Linked DNA regions of Homo sapiens. The protein of the gene in region 6 purifies or fractionates together with the protein of the main gene of each other region. This does not show direct contact. Each region holds a gene or a part of one and is shown on either strand. Other genes may lie near its edges. The genes, in order: GM2A, DAAM2, ITM2B, VAMP7, PMEPA1, PDGFA and KRT72.

Region 1 (3,975 bases), on a different chromosome or scaffold from region 6:
TAAAAAAAAATAAAACAAAGGTTTGAAAAAGGTTATAAGTGTAAATTCCAGGGCAAACATACCAGCTCTTCTGTCTTCAAAAAAGCAGCAATATATTTTAATCATAGAATTTTTAACTGGATGAGATCTTAGAGATAGTCTGTTCTAGGAATGGCAACATTGTGGCCCATGTGTGAGTATAGTGTATTATTGTGCCCATGGCAGACATTAATAATCAAATGTGAATTTTCCCCCTACACTGAACTATACATAGACTTAGAATTCTTTTTTTTTTTTTTTGTATCATGGCTCACTGCACTCACTGCAGCCTCAAACTCCTGGGCTCAGACGATCCTCCTGCCTCAGCCTCCCATGTAGGTGGGAAACACAGACAGGCACATGCCACCACACCCAGCTAATTTTGTATTTTTTGTAGAGATGGGGTCTCACTTTGTTGCCCAGGCTGGTCTGGAACTCCTGGCCTCAAGCAATCCTTCCACCTCCACCTCCCAAAGTGCTGGGATTACAGGCGTGAGCCATCATGCTCAGTCCATAGTCTTAGAATTCTTTAGGTAGTCACTACCCATTGATTGGCTCTAACACTTGCATTGAAATGCACTTGTCATCTAACTGCTAATTGGTTAACTGTGGCATTGTTTCCTGGGCTTTCCTTCTGAGCCCAGTCGTGGCCCCAAAATCCTTTTCTGCATAGGACTTCAGGTAGTTACTACCAACTGATGAGCTGGTTACCAAAATGAACCCAACTGGCTGCTCTTGGGTCACATTTTCTCCGTACAGCCACAGAAGACAGAATTAAGAACAATAGGAATGTATAGAAAGATCACCTTGAGACTGGTATAAAATCATAGCTAGGTTACAACAGATGGAGCTGCCTCAAGGAGTACGGGCTCCCTGACTCAGCCGGGAAAGCTACAAAAGACTCTTGTGCCTGGAGTAGGGCTGGGTGAGAAGCTCTAGAACACACTTCACACCTCCATACTGTCATGACTTTGCTCCCGTTTTGGAGGCTGAAGCTGACCAGGAGGAAGTGGCCCAAATTTCATGGTGGACATCCCAGTTGTGCCGGGCACGCGCTGAACAGTCACCATGTGTTAGTTGCCTCTAGTGCCAAATGAGTTGGCTTTAGAACCATGTCCATCACCCACCAAAGGTATCAAGGGAAAACTCTCAGGAAAGAGCACCAGGAAATTAGCTTTCTCAAATATCTGATTCCTTGTGCGTGTTATGGCAGGAAATCACATTTTTAGGATCCCTTTCAGCTCTGACATTCTAGCATTCTAGGAATCCCAGCCTCTAGGCTCACTTTATTTGGGGCTCTGTTTCTAAGAGATTAAATCCTGGATGGGCACTTATGTCCTAAGAGGCTGCTGGGCTCAGGCTGGTTCCCAGGCCACGGACTCAAGTCTTCCAGATGCCCCAGATGTCGAGATATTAGCTGCCTTCCTCCAGGCCCAGAAAGAACAAAGAAGTTAGCACATCCTGTGGTCTGAGTGGACAAATTCTAATTGCTCCTCTCACTGGCCTCATCTGCTCCTAAGACATACCCATTATCTCCACCACTGGCCACACAGCACCCTCTCAGCCCTCCTCTCTCTCATCAAACCTGCTTCTACCCCGCTGCCTAGGAAAAGTCAGAGGGCCTAGGTTGGAATGCTAGTTCTGCCACTTCCTAGTTTTATTGTGCCCTTGGGTGAGTTACTTAATCTCTCTCAGTGGCCATTCCCTCACCTTCTTTTTTTTTTTTTGAGACAGAGTCTCACTCTGTCACCTAGGCTGGAGTATAGTGGTGTGATTTTGGCTCACTACAAACTCTGCTTCCTGCGTTCAAGCGATTCTCCTGTCTTAGCCTCCTGAGTAGCTGAGATTACAGGCATGAGCTACCACGCCTGGCTAATGTTTTTGTATTTTTAGTAGAGATGGGGTTTCACCATGTTGGTCAGGCTGGTCTCAAACTCCTGACTTCAAATGATCCACCCGCCTCGGCCTCCCAAGGTCCTGGGATTACAGGCATGAAGCACTGTATCCAGCCTCGCCTCATCTTCAAAAGTGGGATATTTTAGAGTGCCTACCTCTCTCACAGGTCCCATTGAGAGGGAAATACCAGCACTTTGCACAGTGCCTGAAATCAAAAGCTTCCTCCTCCATGACTTCTGCCCTGCCTTTTTCCTTAGCCAATACTCTCTCCTTGTGTCGCCAATACCCTAATGAAAATGTTTGAGCCAGTTATGCCCTGAGTGAGAACACACAGTGGAGGAGGCCAGTAGGGGGACAAGTCCTGCCAGGGCTCCTCCCACCAGGCTGGAACCTGTAGGGCTGCATCTACCAGAAGAGGTAGTGGCTCCCTCATCTCTACTCCTGCCCCCAGCACAGGACCAGCACGACACAAGAAGTGTACTGAACTGAAGTCAACAGAGGGTTCTAAGGCAGCAGCCACACCTACCATTTGGAAATTACAAATGATGGCTCATTTCTTATTCTCAATCTATTTGCTACTATGACTCAGAAAAGGAAGCAGGGTGGAGTAATGAGCCCAGGCATGTATATGACTTTGGGTGCTGGGGGAGCCAAGTTACCAGGCCTGAAAGGCTGGAATAAGTACATATGACAAATACAGTGACAATTTACAGTTCTTGAGGATGGGAAAACCAGGGTCCCACAGGCTGGAACTTGAGGGAGGGCTGGGCATTGGGAGTTATTAACTATGCCAGATCCCATGGAGCAAGTCAAAAGAGAAAAGGGAGCTCCTGAGCAGGCCCCAGTCTTACCCACGGCCATGGAATCCGGGACATTTAACTTTTAAAAATTGCAGCTGGAGTCAAATCCAGCCAGGTCCCAGATTTGACTTTTGATTAAAGAAATTTCACTACAGCAAGATCAGAGAAAGAGAGGATGGCAGTTGCTTTCTTGGGTTTGGGCAGTCACTCTCCTCTGGGCCTCAGTGTAACAAGGGGTTGAAGCCCCATGGACCCCAAGAGTGCTCCAGGCTCATCCAGAGCTTAGTTCTGGGCAGCTCTCATAAGCAGGTCTGCTGGGCAAGGGGAGAGTTCTGGAACTGAATCTGCAGCACTCCTCTCCCCTCCCCTGCAAATACACCAAGCACCAAGTCTACCTCCCTGCCAGTAAAAGCTCAGGAACCAAACCCCAAGATAAACATACCAGCCTTGTCCATGCTAACAACTAGCTTTGTGACCTGGGTCAAGTTGCAACCTTTCCTGAGACCCTTTGTCCCTCATCGGCTCTTCTCCCTAGCAAGTGGTCAGAAGAGCTTTCATCTAATAGTTGATATGCACATATCCTGAAAAAAGAACTGAACCAAATAAATAAATAAATATATATATATATACGAGAAATATTGGGAGCCGGGCCTGGTGGCTCACGCCTGTAATCCCAGCACTTTGGGAGGCCAAGGTGGGCAGATCACCTGAGGTCAGGAGTTTGAGACCAGCCTGGCCAATGTGACAAAACCCCATCTCTACTAAAAAAGTGCACGCCTATAATCCCAGCTACTCTGGAGGCTGACGCAGGAGAATCCCTTGAAACCGGGAGGCAGAGGTTGCAATGAGCCATGATCGCGCGACTACACTCCAGTCTAGGCAACAGAGTGAAACTCCATCTCAAAAAAAAAAAAAAAAAAAAAGAAATTGGGGAAAAAGAAGGAGCAGAGGGGATCTGAGGCTAATTTTTCCTAAGCACAAGTGACAGTAAAGACAGAGGAGATTATGTAGGCCCAAATTTATGAAAGGTAATAAAGCAATGGAAAAGGAGAATAGGGAGTAAAACCCATCTTAATGGTTTGTGAAGAAGCCAGGAAAAGCAGGCTGAGGGCAGAAGAGCGGGTTTGCCAGCTTCTTGTTTCCAAGTCAGCTGCATAGCCCCCTCCCTGGAAACACCAGTGGCTGCATGGTGATGGCAGCAGAGGGAGCATGGCGGACGGCCTACCAGGAGAGCCCACACTCCAGATCAGCAGAGGGAGCA
Region 2 (3,975 bases), on a different chromosome or scaffold from region 6:
TGGTAGTAGGGTTCTAGGTGGCCCCACAGCCATTTCTCCAGGCCCTGTGCTGTGGTGGAGCTGGTGTGGGATCTTCCTTACCCAGTCCTCTGATTCAAATGCCAGTCTCTTTGGGAAACACCCTCACAGACATACCCAGAAAGAATTCTTTACCAGCTATCTGAGTATCCCTTGATCCAGTCAAGTTGACACCTAAAACGAACCATCACATCTCACTTCCAGAGCCTTGGTAGTATGCAGGCTGTGGAAGCCTCCCCCGGGAAGGCATCGGCCTAGGAGGAGACTGAAACCCCCAAAGGAAAGGGAGCAAGTTATTGCATGTGATTAGTCTCAAATACCTTTCCTGGGCTGACTTTCCCCTGCCTTCCAGCAACTTCCTGAGTCCCCTCTCCCCATCCCTAACCAGATCATGCTTAGCAAACTAAATTGTATTTTCATTTTAACCTCGGCAACCCTGAAAGCACACAACTCTGCTTTATTGTGTTATAAAATCCCCATCCAAATAGAAAGCTACTTTTGGGTGGTGCTTTACAGTCACTGAGTGCATCCATTATATTTTCACAAAAGCCCTGGATTTATAGATACAGAAACAGAGGTTAGAGGGGATAAGCAGCTTGCCTGTCATCACACAACTAAAGCGTAGATCTGGGGTTTGAACCCAGGTGGTGGACCTGCGCCACATTCCACCTGCTACTTTGAATCCTCTATGCCCCTGCTCCCTTCCCTAGTTTGGATCAGTAGCTCTCAAGCAGGGATGATTTTGCTCTCCTCTCCCCCTGGGGACATTTGCAATGTCTGGGGACATTTTGACTTGTGTGAGGGGGTGCCACTGGCATCTGCTAAGGAGAGGCTGGGGTGCTGATACACAACCTACAAAGCACAGGGCAGCCCCCACAATGAGTAATTATCTGACCCAAGATGCCAATAGTGCTGAGACTGAGAAACTCTAGTTTATAAAATTGACTATCTCCCTGTTCCTTTTGTCTTTCTCTTTTTAAGCCTGGGCCAGAGGCAGGGGAAGAAAACCTTTCCTATGAGACAGGGCATAGTGGATGGAAGCAGGGTCTTCTCTCTCCTGCTGACTTCCTCTGCTGCCTACCCACTGATCACTGTGCCCTCTTCTCTCCCAGGTCCACATCGACACCAAGAGTGCTTCCCAGATGTTTGAGTTGATCCACAAGAAGCTGAAGTACACGGAGGCCTACCCCTGCCTGCTCTCTGTGCTGCACCACTGCCTGCAGATGCCCTGTAAGTACCCTGCACTTGCTGCTTCCCTCGACTGGCCTGAACCTTGACTTGGGGCAGGTTTAGACAAGACTTTGGGACCTCCCTGGTTTGGGGAGTCTGACCATGTCTCCCTGTGCACTTGCTTTTGGGAGGGCAGGCCCCATGACGGAGGCCCCTGCTTTTCCTTCCCTCCTTGGGGTCAGGTCTTCACTGTCATCTGGGGAAGGAGCTGGGGACTTGGCCCTGAGCAACTCCAACATCCTAGTCCAAAAACGGTAGCTTGATCATTGCAAAATTAAATAGCTCAGCTTTCAGCTCATGACGGGGGAGAGATCAGTCATGCTGGGGAGTTCCAAAAAGTTTTGTGCTTGGGGGAGTAGCACAGATGTGGAATGAACATGGTTGTTTTTTTCCTTAAGGTTTTATCAACTCCTTCATCTAGTCCTTGTTGGCTTCCACTCTTGCACTCTTGCCCCTGCTTCTGCCTACAAATACCAAATGTCAGCATCTATGGGAGCAGATGGCTAAGTTCTTAAGATCCAGGTGTGCACAGTGATTGAATAAATTGTACATAATTGCTAATAGCCACTCCAGAATGCAATTTGAAATGAGCTTTAACTGTACCCCTTGGTACTTAAGCTCTTCACAAAAGAGAATATTTTGAAAACCAGTGTGGCCCACCATAATGGTTGATGTTGGCGGTGTCAGCAATCATAGTGACAGTGATGACAACTGTGACTTATTGTGTGCCAACTCTGGGCCAGGCGTGATGTGAGGTCCTTTAGCACATCATCTCTGAACCTTAGAATGACCTAAGGAATACACATTATTATGTCCATTTGAATAGTGAGTGAACCTGAGGCTCAGCGAGATATTTACATATAGAAAGAATTTTGGTTTCTGCGGGGTCAAGGGTTGAGATAAAACATGTTCTGCCTCTTTGAGCTAGTGACCTGGCTTTACACGATTTTGCTGGGTGAAAAGTAGATGGTAAATGATACAACTTTGCAATGCATGTGTCAGTAGACTTGTGGACAGGATAGATGCAGTGACCTGAATTAAGAAGCTATCAGTTCTCCAAAGCTCATTGCAGCAGGTCTTCATGAAGGGCATAGAAATCTCTGGGAAACCTGACTTCTTGTGCTCCCAGGGATTCCTGTGTTTCCTGTTCCATGGGCAATGTGAATGGGTTCTTCTACTCTGCCCCAAAATGGGGCTTTGCAGACTCGATATTCTACCTTGTAGGCATTGTGGTTTGCTTTGATGTCAGGATTGAACTTGTTGGCTTTTTATGATGGTCAATAAAGTGCTAGGGATCAAGGACCAAGGAAAGAGAGTTTGTGGTTATTACATAAAAAGGAAGTCCATGTCCAGCCAGATGACTATCATTAGAGGGGATGAGAGTGAGACTCTATGAGATCACACACAACACACTATGCCTTTACCTTCATAGTTCAAGGTCACTTCCACAAGAAATTTTCTCGAGTTCCATTAAGCACTTCTCTAACCCATTTTGACTCTCAGTGCACACCTGCAATCAGTTTCCCTTCATCTTTCTCTGTAGAGTAATAATGTGGATAATCCTAAAATCTTTTTTAAAAAAAACTTCCCTGGAGACTTCATTATTCAGCATGTAATATTTTGGAGCAGGTGGTTTTTATAGATAATGTAAAAAGCAATCTGCACTTCCTGGGCATAGTATGCCCAGGGTCCAAACAAGGAAGAAAGGCAGCCAGAAAGTATTTCAGGGAGTAGAGAAATATGTTGGGGAGGTGGTTGACACATCCGTAGAAGTCTAGTTGCCGATAATCAAGAGATGACTGAATCAGTGAGTTGCCATTATCAGCAATGGCATTGCCTCTTCTTCTAGACTGGGAGCTTACCATAGGTGGAGAAGGGCATGCCTCACCAGCCAGACCCCAGGCAGCAACTCTAGGGTGGGGCCCAAGGGGGACTTCAGGACTCAGGAAAGATATGATACCTGTCATCCCTCAGACAAACGGAACGGTGGCTACTTCCAGCAGTGGCAGCTCCTGGACCGCATCCTCCAGCAGATTGTCCTCCAGGATGAGCGGGGTGTGGACCCTGACCTGGCTCCCTTGGAGAACTTCAATGTCAAGAACATCGTCAACATGTGAGCAGTGGCCAGCCTTTGCCCTGTCTTCCTCCACCTTCCTCATCACTCTCCCACTCTGGTCTCACCAGCGAAACCTCAGCTCCCTTTCGCAACCCAGTCATCCCGAAATGAGTCTTGGGCAGCATGGTCCAACAGAACTCTCTAAGCTAATGAAAAAAGTGCATTTCTCTACTGTTCAACATGGCAGCCAAATGTGGCTATGGAGTACTTGACACACGGCTAGTATGACCAAGGAACTGAATCTTAAAGGTTGTTTCATTTAAATTTCAATAGCCACATGACACGTGGCTAGTGATTACTCTCTTGGACAGCCAACACAGGTGTATTGGGCATGTTCTCAACTCTCCACGATCCACTGCATGGCTTGGATAGATGGGGAATTTAAACACATTAACGTAGAACAAGGGTCAGCAAACTATGGGTGCATGGGCTGACTCCAGTCCTCCAGCTTATTGTGTATGGCCCATGAACTAATAATTTTTACATTTCAAACAACACACACACACAAGTATAAGTGACAGAGACTATGCATGGTATGTAAAACCTAAAATATTTACTCTGGCCCTTTATAGAAAGTTTGCTGACCACTGACATAGAGCCTGACCATTTGA
Region 3 (3,975 bases), on a different chromosome or scaffold from region 6:
AGAGACAAAATTTAAATCTTTTGAAGAATGACTGTATAACCTGAATTCTGCTAGTGCTGCTGCTTCCTGAATAGCAGCAGCCCCTCCCCAACAATTCAGTGAGGGTACTGGGCAAAAAGGAGAAATATCATTCCTTTGATATTTTTCCCAACCATTAAAAAATATAAAAATCATTCTTACCCCATGGGCTACAGAAAAACAGCAGGCAGGCAGTATTTGAAGATATAGGCTATAATTTGCCAGTCCTGCGTTCCACTTTAAAGGAGATTATAAAATAGTGGCCCATGCCTTCAGTGTTTTGGGCTAAAATTGTTGTATAAATTAAAATAGTACTGATTTTTAGCTTGCCTTGGAAAATTGGAGGATCCAGCAACACTGGACTCATGTTTTAAAAATGAAAACCAAGAATATTCTTTTGTTTTTTGAGACAGAGTCTTGCTGTGTCACCCAGGCTGGAATGCAATGGCGCAATCTCAGCTCACTGCAGCCTCCATCTCCCAGATTCAAGCGATTCTCCTGTTTCAGCCTCCCAAAAAGCTGGAATCACAGGCGCATGCCACCACGCCTGGCTAATTTTTGTTTTAGTAGAGACAGAATTTTGCTATGTTGGCCAGGCTTATCTCGAACTCCTGACCTCAGGTGATCCACCAGCCTCAGTATCCCAAAGTGCTGGGATTACAGGCGGTGGCTTGCGCCTGGCAGGAAAACCAAGAATATTCTTACTTGTTTCATATGCAAAAAGTCCAGCTTCAACAATTCATCTGCTTCAGCCCAGGAGACACTGAATTTGCCTTCTCTGCTTAAGATGCCTAGCACGGCCCTAGGTAAAACTGATAGACAGGAAATTTTATGTCCCAGTATTAAAGGGAGGAAAAAATGAATTGGATAAAGTTATATAAAATGAAAAACTGAAAACTGATAATGCAAAGCTAAATAGACTAGCTCTCAAAAATCATTTTCCCCAGCATAAAAATGGGTCTGCTTTTGGATACTGCAGAGATTCAAGTGATTTAATTAACAATGCATCTTTTAAAATTTTTATATAAAATAATTTAAAACATTATAATCATATATAAGCAGAGAAAATAGTTAAGACTTAAGCTTTATCCTTAACTCATTCTGAAAACAAACAACTTTTAAAAATAATTTGCATCTTGACTGCTCTGCCTATGCAGTACCATTCTTTTACTCCTTTACTTTCTTAATAAACTTGCTTTCACTAAAAAAAAATAATAATTTGAGCCTTAAAGTTAATCATTCAAATAAACACAAAAATCCACCAAACTTGTTTTTTAAAGTATGAAATTCAACTATGCCAAAAACGGTTTATGCAAATATTTCAAAATTTCAAAGTACAAAATATCCACCACCATACTTAGTATCACTTTCCCAAATAAACGTCCAGGATATTTAACTCAGAAGTGGTATTATATATAAGCTGTGAAAATTTTATTTCTCTTTTGTCGTACTTATGTTAGTTCAACATCATAAAATTATTGCTGGTAACTTATCAGTACTGAAAGATAAAACATTAAGTGAAAAATCAGAATATATCTCTACCATAAAAACAAGGGTAATTTCCTCATCGCTACAACTCAAGATTCAAACTTTTCTGTTTAAGAATAAAAAGTCTACGTTCATTCTTACCTGATTTTTCCCCAAGTACAATTATAGAAATACTGCAAAAAGTTTTTTCCTCTAATAAAAGAGCTTAAAGAATGCACAATAATTTAAAATAATCTTGTTCATTCAATTGTTGATAACACTTATAAAATGAGGTTGTATTGTAGATCTCCTTAAAGCTATTAAAAATATGTGTTGTAAGTACTAATTAAAAGGGATAATCACAATTAAGTGGAAATTTTTCAAAAATGATGTCCTTAGTGTTATAATTTCCAATTTTCAACTTTCAGCTGTCTACTTTGGAAAAGACTTTCATTGTGAAGCACAGCTCCAGTGTTAATATTTTGTATATCATTTAGGCAAAAATCACCTCATTCAGAAATTCAGAATTGTCAAATCCTTTAACAGGTTTCAGTAACGGTCTAAAGTCCTTAATTTCTTTTCCTTTAGTCTTTAAGCTCTAATAAAATGCCACGTTTGCCAAAAAATTTAAGAGGATGATTTTACTGGTAACCCAAAAAGATTTTTTTTTCTGAGTCTTCCTTTACTGACACTGACATACAAAGCAGTACAAGAAGCTTTAGTTAAATCTAGGAATTCAGGAAGTAGTATTTCCTTTTGGAAAAAGAATGTGGGTTTTGAATAGACACGCCAGACATTTAAGTTATGGTATGATAAAACTAAGAGAAATAAAATCTCCCCCAATGACTACTTAGTACATGTTTCTATGTACATTTACCCACAAGTCAAGATTTGGAAATGCATAATAAACACCTTGTAAGTCAAATTCTAAATTAATTTAAATAGGCCTGTAACATAAACGTATTTGAGATATTTCTGCTTAAAAAATACTTCCAGTCACATAAACCTTTTATATGTCAGAGTTGAATTCCATGAGGTCACTCAGGCTTATTATGCCAAGTATATTATACTCATTTCTGTCTAGTTGGGAAGACTACAATCCTGTGCAATATGCAACCTTGCACACCCAATATGCTACAGCAGTGTCCTGTCAGGGATGTGTACACAGGAGGTCCTGCCAAGGCATTTGGGATGCACAGACGCAATTCATTTATTTCCCAGCACTAAACCCTCAATTCAGATATTAATATCCTCATGGAGAACCAAAATGTAATGTAAAAGTTTCACTGGCCAATATCTGCAAACACGGAATTACATAACTAGGTAATAAGATGCACTTTGGTTAAAGAGAACCAAGCTCTCAATCCCTTGAGAGCATTATATCAACATTATAGTAAATGGCCAGCCATGCATTTTATGTCCCTTCTCCTCACTCCCCAAAAAACACACAAACAAAACCACCACCACAAACGAAAAGCTTAATTATCAAAACCTTCAGTCTTGATTGTGTGAATAGGGAAAACCAGAAAGGGTAAAGAACCAGGGTCTAAACAGCCATTTGTCATGGGTAACTCAAAACTTTTACTGGGTGAGTCGGCCTTCACTTTCTCTCTTGCACTCACCCTGCCACTATTTTCTCTCCTATATCAGCACTTTACTTTTCTCTCTCCTTTTAAAGAATATCTACAAAGTGGGGTAGAGAGAAAGCAACACTATTTGTCAGCAAAACAACTTGCAGGGATACATATGAAGCAAGCTTAAGCTATTCTGTGGCCTGATACTGGAAAAGGGGTTTCATAAGCAGGCATTGCAACAAAGAGGTGCTGACAACTTCACTGTTCACTGTGAGGTAAACAGAAGTGACAATGTGCTTTATTACATAATACCTCTACCCATCTCCTTTCTCTTTGACCCACTGCTACTTGATATGAGGGAAGAATGTAACATGTTAAACACCAAAAGGAAGAAAGGGAATAGTCTGGTTAGAGTGAGGAGGTAGTTGCTATTTTTCACAATTAAAACAATTTAATGTCTGCCAAATATAATTATGTAATCCTAGCATCTTCATAGATTTTTGAAACTGGAAGAATCCTTACAGGCCATCTGGTCCTACCCTCTCATCTTACAGACAGAAAACCTAAAAATTTAAGCCCAAGATCAAGTAGTTATGTAATGACAAAACTGGGACTTCTGATACAGTACATCAAGTATTTTGTTATCTGCAAATATAAAACAATTTCCCAAGGTTCAAAGTATTGCCACAAAAATATATGAATTGTTGCCTATAGCATAAAACATGTATATAATTTCAAATTCACTTCTGCTACCCAAAATACATCCCATCTTTGCTGTCTCTATAGCTCTAAGAGCTTTATGCCTACTAGGAGAGGAGGAAGGTGAAAACAATTAAGGGGAAAATGCAGGAAAAGAATAAACAGCAAGCTAGTTGAGATAAAACTATCAATAGAAATGGCTGTTAGGATTAATAGC
Region 4 (3,975 bases), on a different chromosome or scaffold from region 6:
TCGTTAGGTGACAACACCTTTTCGCAAAGATTGATATTGCATTTAGAGCTGTGCTCTGCATGTAATAAGTAATCAGTAAATATATTCTGAATTTAACAATTCAGCTGCACAAATCAACCTAAACTCCCAGACCAAATAATAAGTAAGAAGCTAAGCTCAGGAGCCTAAAATGTGATATTAGAAAGAGAAACCTGAGCAAGGAACCATTCAAGGCCATGACAATTACTTCCAGTATAAAATCTACAGATCTATGACTGCTCTTCTCTTTTAGATAAATCCAGCTGTCTAAGGCAGAGGACCCTCAAGCTGTGGTAGAGGAGAAGCAGGGTCAGAGTTATCTGCTTGGAGGTAACTTTGGGCTTCTGGACATGACTGGAGGATGGGGAGGAAAGGCAACTTTATCTGACCATGAACAGGGTAAAGCACCCCCCACCTGTTAGCAATAGTTTTTAAAGTTGTGGTTTAGGACCTCTTTACACACTCAAAAATTACTGAGGACTCCAAAGAGTTCTTGTTTAAGGGGGATTATAATTATCAGCATTTGCCATATTAGAAATTAAAACTTTAAAAATACATAATTAATTTAAAAATAAAAACAATAAACCCATTACATATAAACCAGAAATGTCTTTATTTAAAATAACTACATTTCTGTGAGGTCAGTTTTATAGATCTCTTCCTATTGAGAATATATAATAATTCTCAATAGGAAGGAGGGGTTTAAGTAGAGATATTTCATAGTGACTTCATAGGAAAGCCACTGCCTGGTCATGTGTTTCACTATTAAAAGACATATGTAGCTCATTTCAGAGTGTTAATCATTGAGAAATAATTCTAGTACCTAATTTCTTAGAGATTGAAAAATAAAGCCATACACTAAAAGGACAAAAACTTACAATTGATACGATGATGATGATAATAGTGAGCTTGAGGTTCTTCATACACATGGCTCGAGCAAGATTTCTGCTGGTAGTTTTGAAGGTGACAGACTAGAAAAGAGGCGAGAATTGTTTAACCCCTGGCACTGACTACATGAATGATTTGCAGTAACAACCTGAGAACATTTTACTTCCATTAATTCCATTTAAGTCCAATGACCTCTCTTTACAAGTAGAGACTGGCCATTCATACTCAATAGTTGCCAAAAGCAAGACTCTGCCAGGCCTATCATAAGCAGTATGAGCCCAATGAAAACGCTTCCCTCTTTTTTCTTCTCCACTGCAGCAATGCACATGATGTTGAGCACCAGAAGTGGTTCTTCCCGCTAGTGGAAAAGAATTTTCCTCTCTATACTTCCAATAAGAAAGGCTCTTTTAAAGCCAGCTGACTGCAAGCACATTCGCCTATTCTGCCCCGTATAATTCCGGGGCTTTGAGCCATAAAAACCTGTTTGATTTCTGTAGGAAGATATGTATTTACTTTTGTGAGGGCCAAAACCCATAGAACTTCATTCCTTCTGCTATCCATTTTCTTTTGCATCATCAATTTCTCAGTATCTACTGAACAATTCCCACCAGGACACAAGGAGTTTAAAACAAAATGGCAAACAACCAACCAACAAAACTCCCTAATAATCCAGCAATCCACTCTGGTATGGTCCCACAGATGTATGCAAATTCACCAAAAGACATATAAAAAAATGTTTTGGACAGCACTACTTTTCATACCTTAAACTGGAAACCACCCAAATGCCCATCAACTGTGCAATGCATAAATTACAGGAGAGTCATAACATGGAATACAATACAGTAATGACAATTCACAATCTACTACTACATTTATACAATTTACCACAGATGAATCTCACAAACATCATTTTGAGCAATAGAAACTTGACATAAACAGAATACCTGCTATATTTTATTATTTATCTTGAGACAGGGTCTTGCTCTGTCGCCCAAGCTGGAGTGCAGTGGCACAATTACGACTCACTGCAGCTTTGACCTCCTGGGCTCAAACGATCCTCCCACCTCAGCCTCCTGAGTAGCTGGGACTATAGGTGTGTGCCACCACTCTCGGCCCCTGCTATGTTTTATTAATCTATGTGGAGAAATCAGGACAGTGGCCACCTTTGGAGAAGAGTAGTGACTAAAAGAAGGGAGAAGGGAGCTTCTGGGGTACTGTTCGTGCTCTAGTTCTTAATCTGGGTGTTGGTTCTACATGGTATGTTTACTTTGTGAAAACACAACAAGTTGTATGCTTACAGTTGATGCACTTTATGTATATTATACTTCACATATTGGTTTTAAAAAATCCACTCCCTTAACCATAGATTCATCTCCAACCACATACTCCACAAAGTCTCTGCAGTAGAACAACTGACAGGGGCACCAGTCTTTGGGTTTCACTTCATGAAGACTGCACAGGATGCCACCTGGAGGCACATACCAAAACTGATTACATCTAGAGCTAAATATATATGTTGAATAGAATATATGCATTGACTAGAACTTTTGAGAAGAAACAGCAGTTAAAGTGAGGAGACAAAAAAAGCAATGGGGACAAACAGTCCTTAATGGAACAAAGTTAATATGGGAAACAAGATAGAATAACAGTAATAAAAAAATTTCTAATAAGTATCCTCAGATACAAGACATAATTGAACTAATTTTAAACAAAGTCATCAGAGGACATAAAAAATTAGATAACATGACAACATTCCAAAAACTATATTTTAATAAAATGGCATAATTTTTTAAAAGCAGAACATAAATGAGCAAAAGCAGCTTCTGCAGTAACAATTCAAAAAATTTGTTCTGAAAACAGCAAAATGTCTAGGTTGTAAATCATGAAAGAAGATGTAAGATACACGGAAAACTGATCAAGCAAATCCAGGATCAATTTATACGATCAACAGATATTTAACATGTGCTTATTATGTGCCTGGTACTGATTTACACACCTATTAGCAGTCACAGGAGAGAATACAGCCAAAAGAGAAGGATCAATAATCAAGGGACTAATTGAAGAAAATATCCCCCAAATAAGACAGACTTGAATCTTCAGACTAAAAGGACCTACCCACCATGTGGCAAGAATATTGAAAAAAGGAAAATGTTACACTTTTAGTAACATTTCAGACCTCCAAGCTTTTGTTTCTACTCTAATTTTATTTTTTTCTGCCTTGAAGTATAATTGGCAAATAAAAATGGTATATATTCAAGGTATACAATGTGATATTCTGATAAATGTACACATTGTGAAATTATTACCACAATCAAGCTAAGTAAAATATCCATCACCTCACATAGTTACTTTTTTGGGTATGTGGTGAGAATGCTTAAGATCTATTCTTATAGCATATTTCAAATATTCAATACATTATTATTAACTATAGTTGCCATGCTGTATGTCCGGTATCCAGAACTTATTCATCTTACAACTGTAAGTTCATACACTTTGACCAACATCTCTCCAGGTCTCCCACCCACTGTCAACCACTGTTTTACTCTCTGCTTTTATGAACTGAACATTTTTTTTAGATTCCATATATAAGTGAAATCATACAGTATTTATCTATCTGTGTCTAGTATATTTCACTTAATATAATGTCTTCTAGTTTCATCCACATTTTAGAATTTTTTTTTCTATTCTGTGAAAAATGCCATTGGAATTTCAATAGGGATTGTGTTGAATCTGTGTATTGCTTCAGGCAGTATGAACATTTTAATAATATTGATTCTTCCAATCCATAAACATAAGGTATCTTTCCATTGATTTGTGTCTTCTTGAATTTCTTTCATCAATGTTTTATAATTTTCAGTGTGCACATTATTACATCCTTGGTTAAATTTATTCCTAACTATTGTACTCTTTTTGATGCTATCATAAATGGGATTTTTAAAAAATTTCCTTTGATTCCTGTTCCAAGATGGCCAAATAGGAACAGCTCCAGTCTACAGCCCCCAGCGTGAGCAACGCACAAGACGGATGATTTCTGCATTTCCAACTGAGATACCGGCTTCATCTCACTGG
Region 5 (3,975 bases), on a different chromosome or scaffold from region 6:
CCAAGAACCTCTCACCACAATCAAGATAATGAGTATGTCCATCACCTCAAACGTTCCCTTGGGGCAGGTTTTTTGAGGGTTCCCAGGTAGGATACCGCTCACCTGCAGCCTGGGTAGGAACGGCCAGAGGGTGGTAATTTCCCATATGGCCACTAGGAGGCTCTGTGGCCCCTCAAAACTGTCCCGTCAGGACCGCTCCTACCCCTTAAGGAGGTCTTAACTGCCTCGTCTCCTGATTTAGCGAATGGCTCTGATATTCTTCAAGTTGCAAAGCCAGATCCACAGGATCATTCCTGACAGCTCCTCTCCCCACCACCCTTGTTCCACCCACCCTTGATCCCCTCTCACTTCTCCTTCTATTAGACAGTTCTATCCACCTCTCTCCCCAGCATCTGTGCCTAGTGGACAGCAAAGTCCTATGGAACCAGGGCCTCCATGTGCAGACAGTCCATCTGCAGCCTGCAAAAATGCAGATTCTGTAGCAGGAGGGCTGGCGAGCCTGCGTGTCTCACCATCTCCCAGAGGCTGCGAGTGCCGCTGGTCTTTGAGGTCCTTGAGGGGTCTCCCAGGGTCTCCTCCACTCTTGCCCTTCCCCAGGGCCCTTCCTCCTCACAGAAGTGGGAACATCTCCCTCATGCCCCCCACCCCACACCCTGCCACTCCTCTGCTTAAACCGTCTGGGCCCCCCGCTGCCTCCAGGAGAGAAAGTTCCAACCCCTTACCGAGGCCCATACCCCCTAGATGTCCACGGCCGTAGTATAGCTGTTTCCTTTAACGGGTTTTCCTATCTGTATAGCGGGCTGATGACAGCGCCTGCAATGCACCATACAGTGTGTTCTGCAAGGTGCCCAGTGAACACAGACTCTCACGTCTTGCCTTTGGATCTGAGCCCATCCTGGGTCTGGACCAATGGCCCCTCTTTCCTCCCTTTCCTGAAGAACTTTGACTGGCCCCTCAAGCCTCTGCCCAGGTGTGCTAACCCCAGAGCTCTCCGTTAGCCCCCCAGGCGGGTCAGGCACCTCCTCCCATCTCCTCCAGTCCCCTCCTGCACCACAGCCTTTGTCCCTCTGCCCCCGGTGGCCTATTCAGGGGTCTCACTCGCCCTGCAGGAGCTGCTACCGTTTCCCCAGTGCCAGGCGCCGGCGTGCTATGCAGTCAGGGAGTGCTCAGGTTGCTACTTAAGTGCGGAAGTTGCTGGGTGACCCGTGCAAGTCATCTTTGTGGAATTAGGTTCCAAAGTGGCTTGAGAAGTCGGGGGAGGTGGGCCCAGCTTCAGAATTGTCTGGAACCTTCCCCAGCCTCTGGCTATGTCTGCCAGTCACCCCAGGTGGAGGACAAGGACAGGTTCCAATCCTACAGCCACTGCTGACGAGCCCCCTGCTCCCAGCAGCCTCCAACCACTCCCAGACTCCCAGGGCTCGGGGTGGACTCCTCTTCTTTGAAGTGGGCGCACCCAGTCCACCTGCGCCTTCCCCATTTAGATGCTTCTAGACCAAGGGTCTGAAAACTGTTTCCATAAAGAGCCAGAGAGTAAAATATTTTCTGGTTTGTGGGCCGGCGGGTCTCTGTCATACCACTGAACCCTGCTGCTACAGCCAAGCGCAGCTATGGGCAAAACGCACTCGAAAACACTTCATTCACACTCAGAAAAGACCTCATTGACAAAACCAGGCAGCCGCAGTGAGCTGACGCTCAGGCAGCTCCTCCCAGACCCCTCCAGAGTCTTAACACCACGAGGCCAGAACGTAGCTGCCCATTCTTCCCCTGGAGTCCCCAGGAACATCCAAGGGGACGGGATGGCCTTCTATCAAACTTCGAGGACTCAGAGATGTTTCTAAAGAATAAAGAGATGTTCCTAAAAAATTCGGTACCTCCCATGTCCTCAGGAGATACTGAATTCCCCCACAGCCCAGCACAAGGGGCCTGGGGGAATTCGGTATCTCCTGAGGCCATGGGAGTGGACGCTAGGTCTTTGGCTCCCGCTGCTGGCAGATTGTCGCACATTGGCCTGGCCACAGTCTTGTCCCTGCCCCTGGGAAATGGGCCCTTGGTGGGCTGGGTTCTCTCGGGAGCAGGAGACCCACACTGAGGACTGATTGGGGGATAAAGAGGACAAAGGGTCACCCCATCCAAGGCCTGAGTTCCTAGTCTGAGCAGGCCTTGGGCACAAAGACTGGGATTGCCTTTCTGGGTAAACCTGAAGTCTGCGCCACTCCGTGGCTGGGCGGTCACTGCAGTGACGTTCTGCATCATGTCCCGAATACCCTCGGAGCAGCGCCAGGGTGGAAGTGCCATCCCTGGTCGAGGGGCTTGCCTGCACTGGAGCCTCACCCTCAGAGGGCAGATCCTTGCCCAGTGTCACACAACAAGGAGGTGACAAGGCCGAGAAAAGACCTCAGAGCTCAGGGTCTTACCTGAGATGGTGAGGCAGGTGGGTGAGGCACGAGCTCTTGTCTCCATACAGGCAAGAGGGGACCCCCAGGGTCACCCTGAAAAGGGGCCATGGTCGGATAGCCATGCCAGGGGCAGAGCATGGATGGGCTGGGGGGATGTAGACTGGGCCCGGGACAGATAAGAGCTGTATGTGGATCTCTATGGAAGGCCGCGGGGCCCAGGGACTCCTGTCTGGCAGGGGGTCCCCAGGGGAGCTGCCACATTCTGCTTTAGGCCTAGTGAGGCTCCACGTTTACCCAGCCAGGCATCCCGGGCGGCTGTGCAGGCGGCTGGGTAGACAGTGGGAGGAGACTTTCTATTGGCCGAAGGTGTGACGGAATCCTACCCCTTCCTGGCAGCAGGATCCCAGGTGCCGTCTCCTGCTCCACAACAGTGAAGCCCCTGCAGTCGGCCTCTGGGTACGGTACACTCTCCACTAACTGCATCCTCCCCATGACCACGGGCCGCACAGGCCTAGCTTCAACCCACTGTGGAGATGCACACACTGAGGCTCCGAGGGGCAAGGTGAGTCCAGCCTGGAGTTAGTGCCCCTCCAGGGCTGGTGCCTTCTGGAATGTCCAGGCACCGTCACTCTCCCCAGCACTTGAGGGAGGACGGAATAGGCTGTGGGCTCTTCACACCGGCAGTGACAAGCAGTGTGGCCTCCGGCAAATGTTCCACCTCTCTCATCCCCAGTTTCTCCTCTGGAAAGTGGGGTGAACCCCTGAAGTCCCTGATGGCATCCCTGGGCAGACGTAACCAGTGCTTGTTGCTGGAGTGGTAGCAACAGCAAATAAACACGTCGGGGCTTGAGAGCAGCAGGTCTGCAGCACGCCCTCCGGACAGCGTGCTGGGACGCACAGTGGGCCCCGGGTCTGTGGGCCAGGCATTCCCATCAGAGGTCCCAGGGCTGATGCTCCTTGCCCTGGCAACCTGGTGACGCACTGAGGCTGGGGCCTGATGCAAGCAGAGGTGTCCAGACCTGCCAGGGACAGGCCTTCCGGCTAGGGACTGTGGCCAACAGGCTTCTCAGCTGACTTGGCTCAGCCCAGGGACTCTGGGCGCCACCACCAACCCCAGGCGTCCCCAGAAGTGGGGAGGCCACACTCAGTGCTGCCTGTTCTGTGAGTCCTCCCCACACCTGGTGAGCCCCGGCTCAGAGACGTGCCGCAGCCCCAGGGCTGGCCACGTGCCACCTCCTCCCCACAGTTCCCAGCCTGCTCTTTAAACAGCCGCTTCCTGCCCCACGTGGTTGAGTTACACATCCTGGGTGCAGAGATGGAAGCCATTAAGAGATTAACTCTGTGCCGCCCTTTGGTCCACCTGCTGAAGGATACCGAACAGCCGGGCTTCAGGCGGCCGACATGGAGCCGGGAGTTCACCGTCAGAGGCGGGCAAGTTCCCACCGACCCAGATCTGCCCTGTTTGCCCCTGACTTTGTGGAGATTCGAAAGGGAAATTCTTGGGGTTTCCAGAACACCCACCAATGCTCACAACTCTGAGAGATCAACACCCAGGACTGTAATGGAGAGCGGGGTCCCT
Region 6 (3,975 bases):
CCTGGCCCGATTAGTTTCTAGGGTAGAGGCTTCATGAATGGAATTAGTGCCCTTCGAAAGCAGCCTAGGGAGCATGTTCATCCCCCGCCCCTCACACTGATGGCAGAGCGAGAAGGTGTCATCTATGAACCCAGAAAACACGGCTCCAGCGGAGACACAGTCTGCCGGCGCCCTGATCTTGGACTTCCAGCCTCCAGAACTTTGAGAAATACATTTGTTGCTAATCAGCTCCTAGTGGATGGAATTCTGCTAAAGCAGCCTGAAGAAGGCAGGCACCACCCCCAACTTAAAGAAAGAGGGGCTCACCCTGGGATTCTATGGAAGGAAGTCTGCTGTCTGGCCTCGAGCCCACCCCAAGCACTCCTTCTCCTTCTCCTGGGCTGCTTTAGGGGGGAAGCCGGGGGGGCCCTCCAAAGGTCAGGCACTTCAAAAGGCAATGCAGGCTCTGAATATCCACCCCCTACTCCTCCTGCCATGCACCTCGGCCCCCACTGAAGAGCCCGCACAGGACCCTCCAGGGCCCGGGGACGCCAGACAGCTTCCGGCTAAGCAGCTCGACACCTCGCAAGGCCCAAAACGGCCCCCGCACTGTGGTCTAGGGCGTGGAAAGGAGGCCAGGCTCGTCGCCAGAGCAGCAGAGCAGAAGCCCCGGCCGGCCCTGCCTTTCCCGCACCCCCAGGTGCTCCTTCTCCTCCCTGGGCCTCAGTGTACCTGCCAGGGAGATGGGAGCGCAGCCGTGCACCCCCACCAGCCACACCAGGGGCACCTTGTGGCCTCCCAGGAGGGACCCTGGCAACCCAGTAGGGGCGACCCTCAGGCCTGCGTGGGGCAGGGCTCACCTGGATGCTGCAGTGTTGGATGCGTGAGGGACCCTGGCTGCTTGGTAGGGGCGGCCCCGGGCTCGGGTGGGGAGGGGAGGGGAGGGGCAGGGCTCACCTTGACGCTGCGGTGGTGGACGCGGGAGGGACCCTGGCTGCTAGGTAGGGGCGGCCCTTGGGCTCGGGTGGGGAGGGGAGGGGAGGGGAGGGGAGAGGAGGGGAGGGGCAGGGCTCACCTTGACGCTGTGGTGGTGGATGCAGGAGGGACCCTGGCTGCTTGGTAGGGGCGGCCCCGGGCTTGGGTGGGGAGGGGAGGGGAGGGGAGAGGAGGGGAGGGGAGAGGAGAGGAGGGGAGGGGAGAGGAGAGGAGGGGAGGGGAGGGGAGGGGAGGGGAGGGGAGGGCTCACCTTGACGCTGCGGTGGTGGACGCGGGAGGGCTGGCACTTGACACTGCTCGTGTTGCAGCAGCCGGTGCAGCGTTTCACCTCCACGCACGGGGGCCAGATCAGGAAGTTGGCGGACGTGGGGTCGACCTGACTCCGAGGAATCTCGTAAATGACCGTCCTGGTCTTGCAGACAGCGGGGACAGCTTCCTCTGCAACGGCGGGGGCACAGTGAGCGGGGACCGGCCTCTGCGACCACGGCCCCACCCCAGGGCTGAGGCGGCTCCAGCTGGGCCTGGGGGGCAACCAGGGTAAGCCACAGGCCAGGATTCCTCCCAGGCAGCAGAGGCTGAGCTGGGAGCAGAGGCTTAGGGGCTGGGTGGGCAGGAGCACCACACATCCAGAGGAGCCCAGCCCGGTGCCTGCAGGCTGGAGGGACCTGGACAGGTGGGGCCAGTGGCTCGGAGGGGAGGGGAACTTAGTCCAGGTGGGGCCAGTGGCTGGGGGTGGGGAGAGGGGAACTTAGTCCAGGTGGGGCCAGAGACTGGGGGTGGGGAGAGGGGAACCTAGTCCAGGTGGGGCCAGAGACTGGGGGTGGCAGGGGCAGAGGGGAACCTAGTCCAGGTGGGGCCAGTGGCTGGGGGAGGAGGGGGCCTTAACAGTGAATCCTACAGCACTTGCTGCATGCTCTAGCCTTCAAAAGTGGTCTGAAGGGTGCAAAATGCAGACCCCACAGCAAATGTCACCTGGGGAGGGCCTGCTTGCATCAGCTGGGACTAGCCAGCCACACATGACACTTTAAGGTGGAAGATACAAAATCCATCTTCATGGAGGAAACCACAGCTCAGAGAGGGGGGTCCACCTGCTCAGGGCCCCAGAGCCATGAGCAGCACCAGGGCTCAAACCCATCAGGTGGGACCCCCGAGGACGCGGGACTTGGGTAGAAAGCAGGGACTGGCCCCTGAACTCCCCAAACCTGCTAGTTCCTCCTCAGGGGGCTGGAGGGCCATGGGGCTGTCCTGTAAGAAGGGACAAAATATCCCCCAAATGGACGCGGGGGTGGAGCCCTGGAGCCAGGTGTGAGTGGGGCGGGGCACACGGGTGTGGTGAGGGTGTCGGGGGGCAGCCGCCGGACACAGCACGCGCGTCCCCACCAGTTCAGCAGCCGGCGCAGGAGCACGATGCCCACACTGCGAATTGGAAATTAGGCGCGACCACGTTTCCGGCAAGGCTCCTGGGGACAGGCCCCGACAAGACAGGGCGCTTAAGGAATTTATGATGGCTCTTCTCTCCTGGAAGCTCTCTTGGCCCAGACCAGGACTCCAGGAGGAGCAGGCGGGCTGGGGCAGGAGACACCCTCGAAGGAGGGAGGCCTCGGGAGAGGCCAGAGCCAGAGGCACCAGGGCCAGGCCTATTTTAGGGAGGAGGGAACGGGTGGCTTGCCTGAGGCCACTGCGCTGGGAGAGCGGGCAGCTCCTCCCCACCCGGCCCTGCCCTGCCCATCGCGGCCTCCTGGACTCACCCTGACCCGGCCCTGCCCTGCCCATCGCGGCCTCCTGGACTCACCGATGCTTCTCTTCCTCCGAATGGGCAGGGGCCGCTTCTCGGGCACATGCTTAGTGGCATGGACCCCGTGAGCTCTCAGGCTGGTGTCCAAAGAATCCTCACTCCCTGCAGGCGGAAGGAGAACACCGTGAATGCCCCAGGCCCGTGCGCTGTGCCCTGGGCCTGTCCAGCCGCACTTCCCACAGACCAGCTTTGGGAGCCACTGGGGAACAGGCACCTGGCGGCACAGCCCCTCACAGCTCCCGCCATTAGGGGCCCTCCAGGAGAACCTCGATTCCCACCAGGGCTTTCCAGAGATGCAGGGCATGAAACACTGGAAACCGCAGAAAACGCCCCGTTAGCACAGAGGTCCCCACATTCAGGGGCCCGTGACGAAGCGCAGGGCCCTTCGGGGAAGAGGTTGCAGGTGGTCTCCCCTACGGTGCCTCCTCCAAGGTAGCCCAGGTGAGGGCTGCCCCGGGGCAGGAGGGGCCTGAGGCCGCCCAGCTCCGTGCACCTCCCCGAGGGGCACAGGGCTAAGCCAGGCCCCACCTCTGTCTGGGGGCTGGAGCGAGGGAGAAGCAGAGGCCGCTGAGATTTCTGCAGGTGCCTGTACGTCTCCCTCCCTCCCCCTCACTAAAGCACTCCTGGAAGAAGTGGCCTAACCTCTGAGGGGCACTGGAAGCCGCCAGACTGGGCTGCGGGCCAGACCCCACTCATTCCTGAAATGAGTCTACTCTAGGGCCAGCGGCCATGAGGAGAGGCAGGAGGGCACGTGGCCTCTCGTGGAGGCTACACGGAGGAGTTCCCGCAGCCTGACAGAGGGAGGCGGCCTGCGGAGAGGGGTTGAGAGAAGCTGGCATCTGCGAGCCGTGTTTACAGCCAGGCGGCCAGGTGCAGGTGGGGCAGTGGCCCAGAGCCAAGACCAGCACTGACCGGGGAGCAGAACTGAGAACCTATCCCCGCCACCCCACCCAGCTGCACACACCACCCCTTCACAGGCGCTGACGGCTACAGCAGACAGGCTGGGGGAGTCTCAGGTCTCTCCAAATCCCGCAGTAGGGAGAGGACCCACAGTCCTGCCCATGGACACACTGCCCGCACCTGGGCACCGCGGGTGGCTCTGGGCCTCCTTGCCTTGGCCCCCTGGTCCCAGCTGGGGAGTCTCTTCCCATCTCCCTCCATCCTGCCCCCCCCACCATATAACCAAGGGTGAACAGGCGCGGAGA
Region 7 (4,541 bases), on a different chromosome or scaffold from region 6:
GTGGGGTGTCTTACATTCTGGGAACTGCCATGGAAAACTTCACTCAGGAGGAACTACAAAGGCATTTGGGTTGTCCATCTGGTTTTGATACAACTCTCTTTCCCCCATTCCTTCATTTTCAGTGCTAGAAATTGAGCACACATTTCCTCGACAGTTTGGAGAACCGGTGTAGGTAGATCTATTCTTTTCCTAGTTCCATTCTGTCTGGATGTTCCTCCCTCCCCCGGTATCAGCAAGGATCTCAGAAGCAAAAATGCCATCTCCAAACGAAAACCTCATTTGAAATCAGATCCTCCAGGGCCATATTCCCTGCCACTCACTCACCTCTTCTTGTAGTCCTCCACCAAATCCTGCATGTTCCTCAGCTCCGAATCCAGCCTCACCCCGTCCCCAGACAGCATCTCCAGCTGCTTCTGCAGGTTGCTGATGTAGCCCTCATAAATGGGCTCCAGGTTCTTCCTGCAGTTGTTCAAGTCCAGCTGCTGTAGGAGGTTCCACTTGGTCTCTAGCACCTGATTCTGCTGCTCCAGGAACCGCACCTGGAACCCAAAGGCAGTCATCGCCCAGAGTCCCCATGTTGTTGCCTCTCAAGAGTGGGGAAAGGGCCCCAAAAACCAGAGGCAGCCATCCTGGGGGACTGGGGGTAGGAGAAAACAAGGCTTATCCCGGGGTGGATTCAGCCGAGGGACATGCTCACCTGGATCTCCAAGACAAGAAATAGGACCCGGTCTATATGGAATCAGGAAGAGGGCTTAAGCAATGGTACCATCTGCCTCTGCCTCAGTGAGTTTTCATGAGACAGAGGTAGCTTCTCATGCTATAAATGCTGGTGTTTTCTGAGTAAAGAGAAATGGGGAGCAGGGGAGAAACAGGGACTGGGGAGTGACATTGGAAAGCACACTGGCATTTAGAGCGTTCCTCCTGTTGTGTAGCCTAAATTGCACTTGGTTTGTTCATTTCTTTGTTGTTCACAGCAAGTTACCACATCTTCACAAAGTTCCTTCATACTTGACCAGGGTGCACATTTTTAGACTCAATAACTCCAAGCCCTCTGCCACACACCAGCATTCCTCTTCTCACCTATCTTTCAGCTTGAGGGGCAGAAGGAAACATGCTAGGGAACAACAGACATAAAAGAGCAAGAGAATGCTCTGGCCTCTGGAATAGCTGCTGTGTTTCTTCCATGCAGACCTGTGCCCTCCCGCCACCTCAATTCCTCTTCCCTAGCATAGTGGTGACACTCGGTCCACCACCAACTGTCCTGTCCAAGGTGAGCTCATTTCTTAGCCTCCCATGTCTTAATATCCTCATCTGCAAGGCAGAACAACAACAGAATCATGGGTTGTGATTGTAAATGAGAATCACTTGGGACGGCACCATAAATGTCAGCTATTGTTATCAGGCTGTCCCCTTATCACTCACCGTCTAGACCTTCCATCCAGGTGGAGACAAGAGAAGTCCATTCCCTGTCTCCTCTCCACTCACTGGGGTCATTGCCTCAGAAGCTCCAGAGACAACTTCCCTATTACCCCAATTTCTGGATGCCCCACCCTCAGCACACACCTGTAACTTTACATGCACTCTTTCCAAGTGCCTCCTCAGCCTCACCCTTCAGTTTTCTGGCCCTTTTCTCTCACCTCCTCTATCATCTTCCTGGCTACACACTTACCCCACTCCTCAAGCACCAAGCACCATGTCCTGCAACGTCTCTTGGCCTCTGTTCCTAATGCCCTGCCCTGAATGTGGGTCCCATCTCCTCTTCTGATATTGGGAGCTCTCAAAGTGCCCATTCCTTGGACATCCTGACCCCTCCCTTCTCACAGTCTTGTCTCATGCAAGAAAGAAATGAAGGTCCTTGATACGTTTTGGCTGTGTCCCCACCCAAATCTCAACTTGAATTAAGTCTCCCAGAATTCCCACGTGTTGTGGGAGGGACCCAGGGGGGAGGTAAATGAATCATAGGGGCCGGTCTTTCTCCTGCTATTCTCCTAATAGTGAATAAGTATCACGAGATCTGATGCGTTTATCAGGGGTTTCCGTTTTTGCTTCTGCCTCATTTTTCTCTGGCCGCCGCCATATAAGACGTGACTTTGGCCTCCCGTTATGATTCTGAGACCTCCCCAGCCATGGAGAACTGTAAGTCCAATGAAACCTCTTTTTTTTTTTCCCAGTCTCGGGTATGTCTTTATCAGCAGCATGAAAATGGGCTAATACATCCTGTTTATTGGAAGTATGTGCCAGGCACTGTTCTGAGCACTTCGTAAACATCCCAATTAAGCCTCATCGCAACCCACTGGAGTAAGACCCATTATTGTGCCCATTTTACAAATGGAAAAGGGAGGCTCGGAGAGGTTATGACCCGCCCACGCTCCCACACAGCTCGCCAGTGGCAGAGCCAGCACCACTGTGCACATGCGCCCAACGCAGGGACAGGCCAATGCCCGAGGACTCACCTTGTCGATGAAGGAGGCGAACTTGTTGTTTAGCGCCTTGATCTGCTCCCGCTCCTGGGCGCGCACCCTCTGGATCTCGGGGTCCATCTCCACGTTGAGCGGGGCCAGGAGGCTCTTGTTGACGGTGACCTGAGGGATGCCCCCGGGTGGGCACACGGAGGGACACTTGGGCCCCAGCCCGGCGCTGCCGAAGGCGGTGCCCACGAAGCCGCCCAGGCGGCCGCCGCCCCGCCGTGCAGCAGCGCTGAGCGCCAGGCTTCGGCTGCCCCCAAGGCAGGAGAGGCTCTTGCTGCCAAAGGAGGCCGAGCCCTTGACCCGGGCCCGGAATGAGGCGGAGCTGCTGCCGATCCCGCCAGAGAGGACCGCGGAGCAACCGCTGAAGCCCAGGCGCTCCCCGCGGGGGAAATGGGTCAGTTGGCGGCTCATGGCTCGCAAGTACCGGTGCTGGCCGCGCGGGAGGCAGAAGGGGCGCAAACAGCCGCTGCGTTCTCGGCCCAGCTCGCCCCTTAAATAGCCTGGCTGGCTGGAGTCAGCCTAATTTGTATGTCGACAACACCTTTTAGATCCCTTGAGGCCTCTTGGGTTCTTCATGTAGGAAATTACCATGCACTCACCGAGATTTTTGTCTGTTCCACCGTGAACTCCCCATGAATCCCTGTAAAGTGACCCAGAACCCAGCATTTACTTGGCTCACCTCCTGCATTATCATGGCTTAGCGACCTTATCTCCACCTGCTGGCCTCCAATTACTGGGGTTATCACTCCCAAGATCACCCCTGGAAACTTCCAGTGGGGCTGACCCTCTGGGTGTGTGTCTGGGGAGACGGAGGTGTGTGAAGCAGAAGTCCAGGCTGCTTCTGCTTCAGAAGGCCATGAATAGAGTCAAGACTATCGCAGAAAATCATCCTTAGCCTGTCCTCCTCCTGCCTCCCAGGCTTCTGGATGAGGACAGCTCTGTCCCTTGTGCAAGAAGGAAGTTCAGAAGGAGGAGATTTTGGCCCCGTCTGCAGAGACCTCTCAGTCTGTTGGAGAAGGCAGGACACAGAGACCTCTGGTCACAAGTGTTGAGGGTTGACTTTGGACCAGAGCGAAAAGATTTCTCCACTAAGCATTTCTGGACTAAGAATGGGGACCATGCTATCTGGGAGGGAGGGAAGAAGGCCTGGGGAGGTGGTACAGGAAGACTCAGGCATGGTTTAGCAGATGGTGTTTCCTAAGGCTTTCGGTTGTTTTCATTTTTGTTTTCTTTTAATAGCAGAAGAGGCTTATTTATCCCATCCAGCAAACCTCTGCTCAGGTCATTTGCCACCCAGTCATTTCTGATTCAGCATCAAAATGTGATCAGTTATTAGGAAGAGGTCAAGACTCTTCAGATCTAAAACCAAGAACTAGATTCTAGAACTTCATTCCCTTTAAGCTACAGAGGCTCCTTCTTCCACCTAACCCGATTTCCTTTTCTCAAACTTAAGCTGCCTTCAAGTCTCCTCCTCTCTTAGCAACAGCTCTCCTGTTCCTCTGGCATGCAGGTGGGATTATTTCATTGCTCTTATTTCTTAAGCTGCCAGAGTCCTGGGTGTGTGTTCCATTTCCTCTATCAGATTGACAGGGCCCCCTGGATTCACCCTTCCCTCCTCTGCTCCCCCAGTGCTCAGCCCAGGCCTTGGCCAAAGGGACATTTAGGATGATTGTGAAACAGCAGAGTGCTTAGGGCAAGGCTTGTTACTGCACCTTCAGTGATACCCTGAAGGCTGGGTTCCCCTTGGGGACCTCATGGGTTGGTTAAATGGTACCTGGGGGTAATTGGCTGACATAGCCTCCACTGGGCCAATGACAGGACATAATAACAGCCGAAGCGTTTACTCCACGGGGAACAAAGTTGTGAGGGCATTGTTAAGCGCTGGAGATGGCACCGATCACAGATGAACAGATAACGGCATCTGGGTGTCCTAGGTGGGAGAGAGGGTGGGCTCTCAGTGCTGCCTCAGAGGAGGGGCTGTAGTCCCTTCCCTCTGAAGAGGAGAAGGGCAGTGTCAGTGTGGCTGGGTGACAGCAGACCCTTCAAGAAGATCAAGGTTATGTTTTTTATTAT

The links.
Region 1: the proteins of PDGFA (region 6) and GM2A purify together in Homo sapiens (affinity purification with mass spectrometry, with the first as the bait; one study listed by BioGRID). This does not show direct contact.
Region 2: the proteins of PDGFA (region 6) and DAAM2 purify together in Homo sapiens (affinity purification with mass spectrometry, with the first as the bait; one study listed by BioGRID). This does not show direct contact.
Region 3: the proteins of PDGFA (region 6) and ITM2B purify together in Homo sapiens (affinity purification with mass spectrometry, with the first as the bait; one study listed by BioGRID). This does not show direct contact.
Region 4: the proteins of PDGFA (region 6) and VAMP7 purify together in Homo sapiens (affinity purification with mass spectrometry, with the first as the bait; one study listed by BioGRID). This does not show direct contact.
Region 5: the proteins of PDGFA (region 6) and PMEPA1 purify together in Homo sapiens (affinity purification with mass spectrometry, with the first as the bait; one study listed by BioGRID). This does not show direct contact.
Region 7: the proteins of PDGFA (region 6) and KRT72 purify together in Homo sapiens (affinity purification with mass spectrometry, with the first as the bait; one study listed by BioGRID). This does not show direct contact.

The regions. Positions count from the first base shown.
Region 1 is NC_000005.10:151,262,752-151,266,726, reverse strand, and holds part of GM2A (ganglioside GM2 activator isoform 1 precursor), read right to left. Parts: intron 1-3,975.
Region 2 is NC_000006.12:39,872,108-39,876,082, forward strand, and holds part of DAAM2 (disheveled-associated activator of morphogenesis 2), read left to right. Parts: intron 1-1,130; coding exon 1,131-1,248; intron 1,249-3,222; coding exon 3,223-3,361; intron 3,362-3,975. UniProt on the Homo sapiens protein: Key regulator of the Wnt signaling pathway, which is required for various processes during development, such as dorsal patterning, determination of left/right symmetry or myelination in the central nervous system.
Region 3 is NC_000013.11:48,236,081-48,240,055, reverse strand, and holds part of ITM2B (integral membrane protein 2B), read right to left. Parts: intron 1-3,975. UniProt on the Homo sapiens protein: Plays a regulatory role in the processing of the amyloid-beta A4 precursor protein (APP) and acts as an inhibitor of the amyloid-beta peptide aggregation and fibrils deposition. Plays a role in the induction of neurite outgrowth.
Region 4 is NC_000023.11:155,936,715-155,940,689, reverse strand, and holds part of VAMP7 (vesicle-associated membrane protein 7), read right to left. Parts: intron 990-3,975; coding exon 897-989; intron 1-896. UniProt on the Homo sapiens protein: Involved in the targeting and/or fusion of transport vesicles to their target membrane during transport of proteins from the early endosome to the lysosome. Required for heterotypic fusion of late endosomes with lysosomes and homotypic lysosomal fusion.
Region 5 is NC_000020.11:57,654,304-57,658,278, forward strand, and holds part of PMEPA1 (protein TMEPAI), read right to left. Parts: intron 1-3,975. UniProt on the Homo sapiens protein: Functions as a negative regulator of TGF-beta signaling and thereby probably plays a role in cell proliferation, differentiation, apoptosis, motility, extracellular matrix production and immunosuppression.
Region 6 is NC_000007.14:509,584-513,558, forward strand, and holds part of PDGFA (platelet-derived growth factor subunit A isoform 2 preproprotein), read right to left. Parts: intron 2,873-3,975; coding exon 2,768-2,872; intron 1,414-2,767; coding exon 1,226-1,413; intron 1-1,225.
Region 7 is NC_000012.12:52,598,574-52,603,114, forward strand, and holds the start of KRT72 (keratin, type II cytoskeletal 72), read right to left. Parts: upstream 2,891-4,541; 5' UTR 2,880-2,890; coding exon 2,454-2,879; intron 730-2,453; coding exon of another isoform or gene 698-729; intron 540-697; coding exon 325-539; intron 1-324. UniProt on the Homo sapiens protein: Has a role in hair formation. Specific component of keratin intermediate filaments in the inner root sheath (IRS) of the hair follicle.